Regions from separate parts of the Homo sapiens genome. Here region 1 is linked to region 2. The links come from fine-mapping of genetic effects on plasma protein levels. A gene starts in region 2. The other region holds a variant in brackets. All regions are shown on one strand. Distances are from middle to middle.

What was found. PIP is the chance, under the fine-mapping model, that this variant and not a neighbour inherited with it causes the effect. Protein levels are from antibody-based Olink assays in UK Biobank. Linkage for the fine-mapping came from a reference panel and not from the study's own genotypes, which makes the PIPs less certain.
Region 1: its variant is fine-mapped to the plasma level of the EPHA1 protein (UK Biobank, PIP above 0.99). The variant lies in the coding sequence of EPHA1. If it changes the protein, the assay may bind it differently, which can mimic a change of level.

Annotation. Positions count from the first base shown.
Region 1 is chr7:143,394,024-143,396,523 of GRCh38, reverse strand. It overlaps EPHA1 (EPH receptor A1), which reads left to right. Exons shown (of 18, transcript NM_005232.5): 11 at 14-139; 12 at 1,020-1,205; 13 at 1,342-1,403; 14 at 1,510-1,716; 15 at 2,181-2,330. Among named protein-coding and RNA genes, the nearest start is that of EPHA1-AS1, 13 kb to the left of the region's middle. RefSeq lists a silencer at 74-368 and an enhancer at 306-1,016. The variant C/T (reference allele first, on the strand shown) is at 1,348.
Region 2 is chr7:143,407,538-143,410,037 of GRCh38, reverse strand. EPHA1 (EPH receptor A1) reads left to right here and starts at 1,182. Exons shown (of 18, transcript NM_005232.5): 1 at 1,182-1,314; 2 at 2,360-2,427. The coding sequence starts at 1,233. EPHA1-AS1 (EPHA1 antisense RNA 1) reads right to left here and starts at 2,225. Exons shown (of 5, transcript NR_033897.1): 1 at 2,152-2,225. RefSeq lists an enhancer at 498-1,110.

The DNA.
Region 1 (2,500 bases), 14 kb after region 2:
GTTCTGCCCATAGAGGACAAGCTGTGGCTGAAGCCTTATGTGGACCTCCAGGCATACGAGGACCCTGCACAGGGAGCCCTGGACTTTACCCGGGAGCTTGATCCAGCGTGGCTGATGGTGGACACTGTCATAGGAGAAGGTGAGTCCTGCTGTGCACCGCAGCAGGCCCCCCGCCATGTGGGGCAGCACAGAGCCACCAGCAGGCCCCTTCCTTCCAGCGCTTCCCTGGGCAGCCCAGCTGGCTTCTCTGGTCCAAGAGTTTCCAGAGGTACTCACTCTGCTCTGCTCTGTATCCTCTTTGAACCATTGCGTTCTTGTTAAAAACCCCTCATCAGGTGCCCTGGAGCAACCCCTGTCTCCTACACACTTGCTTCTGTGGTTTTGGAGTTTCTGATAAAGGGCATTAAATACACTGTTTTCATCCACAGAGGTGCTGCTGTGCTGAGGGTCCAGATGTTCTGTGATGATGCCCAAATGTAGGACTCATTCCCTCCCTAGCCTGGCATTCCACCCCATCAGAGGCCCAGTGTCCTTGGGCTGCCCTGTTCCCTTGGGTCACCAGAGGAAATGGATCTCAGTGGAGAACAAAGCTTGGTGGTGTCCTTGCCAATTGTGCAGCTGAGCCAGGCAAGCTGGGACCAGAGGAGCTCACAGAAGAGAGGCGGCCATAGCCAGCGTCCCTGCCACTTGGGTACTAGTGCCGCACTAGCTTGCTCTTCATGAGCACGGCCCAGTCCCGCTCCACAGGGTTCATTCACCCTGCAGTTGCCGAGCGCCTATTGTGAGCCAAGAACTGTGCAAACACTGGGAGACAGTGGTGAATAGGTCACGGCATTGCACTCCAGCTCCAGACTCTGACCTTCCCCAGGAAGGACAGCCCACGCCCTGTCCCAGGAAGGGCACTCCACGCTTCTGATTCTCCAGAAAAGAAAAGGGCCGGAGGACTGGAGGGGTTGCTGCCTGTCCCCTGGAGGAGCCCTGCAGTGCATCGGGCCACAGCCTGTTTTCTTTCTACCCAGGAGAGTTTGGGGAAGTGTATCGAGGGACCCTGAGGCTCCCCAGCCAGGACTGCAAGACTGTGGCCATTAAGACCTTAAAAGACACATCCCCAGGTGGCCAGTGGTGGAACTTCCTTCGAGAGGCAACTATCATGGGCCAGTTTAGCCACCCGCATATTCTGCATCTGGAAGGCGTCGTCACAAAGCGTACGATGAGTGGTCTCCCTCAGCTGGGGGCGGGAAATGCAGGAAAGAGGGGTGAAACCACTGGAAGTGGAGGGAGGATGTGTGGCCAAGGGCAGGAAGCCCGGTTCTGAGTGTGATATGTGTGTCTGTGTCTCAGGAAAGC[C/T]GATCATGATCATCACAGAATTTATGGAGAATGGAGCCCTGGATGCCTTCCTGAGGGTGAGGAGGGCAGAGGACTAGCTGGGGAGGGGGATGCACCATGGTACCCTGGGCACTGGGAGGAGACCTGGCCCATCCCCTGACTCACCCACTCACCCTGCTGCAGGAGCGGGAGGACCAGCTGGTCCCTGGGCAGCTAGTGGCCATGCTGCAGGGCATAGCATCTGGCATGAACTACCTCAGTAATCACAATTATGTCCACCGGGACCTGGCTGCCAGAAACATCTTGGTGAATCAAAACCTGTGCTGCAAGGTGTCTGACTTTGGCCTGACTCGCCTCCTGGATGACTTTGATGGCACATACGAAACCCAGGTTAGAGGCCGGTACAAACCCAGTGCACATTCACATTGCCCCGTAACATGCCATTCATACAGTCACATGTATATAGGCACAAAGACTTGGCCAGGCACGGTGGCTCACACCTGTAATCCCAGCACTTTGGGAGGCCGAGGCAGGTGGATCACAAGGTCAGGAGATCGAGACCAGCCTGGCGAACATGGTGAAACCCCGTCTCTACTAAAAATACAAAAAATTAGCTGGGCATGGTGGCAGGCGCCTGTAGTCCCAGCTACTCAGGAGGCTGAGGCAGGAGAATCGCTTGAACCTGGGAGGTGGAGGTTGCAGTGAGCCGAGATTGCGCCACTGCACTGCAGCCTAGCAACAGAGCGAGACTTTGTCTCAAAAAAAATAAAATAAAAATACAATAAAAGAAGCAGAAAGACTCGTGCTCAGGTGGACACCATAACTTTCCGTCCCTGACCCATGTGCCTTCTTAGGGAGGAAAGATCCCTATCCGTTGGACAGCCCCTGAAGCCATTGCCCATCGGATCTTCACCACAGCCAGCGATGTGTGGAGCTTTGGGATTGTGATGTGGGAGGTGCTGAGCTTTGGGGACAAGCCTTATGGGGAGATGAGCAATCAGGAGGTGAGCCCAGAATATTCTTCCTCATCTTGTCTCCAATTCACACCTCTTATTTCCTCCCAAGGTCCTCCCATGGCCTTTTCCTGCAAATATCTTTATTTATTCATGACCTTCAGTTTTTCTGTACTCCTGGCTCCTCTGGTTCTTCACCTCATGCCCTGCTCTCTTTACTC
Region 2 (2,500 bases):
AGAATATAAGAAAGTCTCGGCAGAGCGCAGTAACTCAGGCCTGTAATTCCAGGACTTTGGGAGGCAGAGGCAGGGAGATCACTTGAGATCAGGAGGGATCACCTAAGGTCAGGAGTTCGACACCAGGCTGGCCAACATGGTGAAACCCCGTCTCTACTAAAAATAGAAAAATTAGCTGGGTGTGGTGGTGCACGCTTGACGCTTGTGATCCCAGTTACTCGGGAGGCTGAGGCAGGAGGATCGTTTGAACCAGGGAGGCGGAGGTTGCAGTGAGCCAAGATTGCACCACTGCACTGCAGCCTGGGCCACAGAGCGAGACTCCATCTCAAAAAAGAAAAAGAATATAAGGAAGTCCGCAAGAAAGTGAGAGGGCACGTGGTTTGACACCACTAAGATGGGTTAAAATATCCTTCCCTGCCACCTGTGGCTGGAACCTTAACCAGATATTCATGTCTGCTGTGTAAGTGCATGTCAAGGTTCAAACTCCTTTTCTTGTTTACCCAGCCCTGGCCCACACCTGCCTTTCTGCCCTGATTCCCAAGACAAATCCTGCGCCCCAGCAGTCAAACTGGTCCATTCACCACTCCCTGGGCGCACCTTGAGGCTCCCTGCCTTCAGGCCCTTGCTGGTGCCTTTCCCAATCTCTGCCACTGAAAACCCAGGTCACACCAGCTCTCCCTGAAGACTCAACTAATGTGCCCCGATGACTGGGCTTGCTTCCTCTTCTAATCTCCAGATGCTTCACTGCAGGTTGTACCCCACCTTGCATTGTGGTCATCTAAGCCTCCCCTGCTAGAGGGTGAAGATATGACTCTTACCCCTTGCCTTCCCCGGCCCTATTACCCAGCTCTGGGGCCTGCACAAAGACAGAAAGAGGAATATAGGAGTGTAATTCAAGTCAGAGGTAGAATTAGGTTAAAAGCTGGATCAAGATTGGGTTGAGTTTAGGATTAGAATTGGGAAAAGGTTCGTCAATTCTTAATCCCACCTACTAGGCGGCGCCCGCAGTCTCATTCGGGTCAAGACGCCTCCGGTTCTTGAATTTGATTACCAGTCTAGCAAGTTTCTTTCCTGCCCTACTGTCCCTTTAAGGAGGTGAACCAGGTGAGGCCGGGACTCCGCCCCCGGCGCTGGCCCCGCCCCCCGCCCCCGCCCGGCCCGCCCGGCTCTCCTAGTCCCTTGCAACCTGGCGCTGCCATCCGGGCCACTGTCCCAGGTCCCGGCCCGGAGCTATGGAGCGGCGCTGGCCCCTGGGGCTAGGGCTGGTGCTGCTGCTCTGCGCCCCGCTGCCCCCGGGGGCGCGCGCCAAGGAAGGTACCGACCCCCGCCCCCGCGCCCCCAACCCCCGCGCCCCGCCCCTTCCCGGGGCCCGGCCAGCACCCCCCTGCAGAAGCCGGCATTCCTAGGGGCCATGTTCCCCGAGACCCTCGCCAGCTCTCTCGCTGTGCCCGACCGCCAGGCTATCGACTGGCCAGGCCCATCTTTGGTCTTTAACCCCAAGCGGCTGCTCTCCCGGGTCAGTCACCCCCACTCCCGCAGGCCAGCAATCTGCTCCTGGGAGTGGGGAGGGAATTCCGGACCCTTGCCAGGAAGTAGCACCTGCACCCGCACCCCTGCCTGCATTCCCAGACAGTCCCAGCTTCAGGTGCCCACCCCAGAGATCTGAGCCCTTGGAAGTTGAAGGTGGGAAGTCGCCTCCTGCCAACCTAGGCCAGGGACAGAGGGAGCTGCCTCCGGGAGAAGGGTTAGGACTGACGCCACAGGGGTTCCCAGTTGTCCGAGTCGAATATTCCATGTGAAAGTTGGAACACCCTCTCCGGCCTTACTCCCCCCCACTTCCCAGGCAGGTAGCTGTGCCTCTTATCCCCACTTCACGGCTCTGATCACTGGCCAGGTCAGGCCAAAGCAGGCTTCGGACAGTGGAGGTGAGCCTCCCTACCCAGGAAACCCCTTCTGAGGTCCCCGGTCCACCCTGCCCACTCCTGGCTAGCAGAGGTGAGCTCCTCCTGCCCTCCACGCGTTCCAATCCTGCAGCTGATGGGTGTCCCAGGACGCAGCAGCCTGGGTAACTGAGCGTCTCGTGGGGCTGCTCTTCTTGCATTGACTTTGGTCAAAGACCCAGCGCCCCAACCCTTGTCCCACTCTACCTGCCTTCCTTCACACACACAAAGAAGAGTGAAATCCCTGGAGCTCTTCACTCCTCAGTCCTGAGCCCTTTTTCTCCCCTAAGCCTCAGGAAGTCACAGCTTTTAGGAACAGGATGTTGCAGCCTGGGGCTGAGGCCCCAGAATGATTAATGTGGGCTGCAGGGGCACCTCCTCCCCCAGAGGTGACAGACTTCTTTTCTCCCCACTTTCAGTTACTCTGATGGACACAAGCAAGGCACAGGGAGAGCTGGGCTGGCTGCTGGATCCCCCAAAAGATGGGGTAAGTGTCGGAAGAGGGAAGGATCTTGGAAAACTCCTGAAGGCCAGTGGGAAATGGGGTGGAGAGGTGGGTG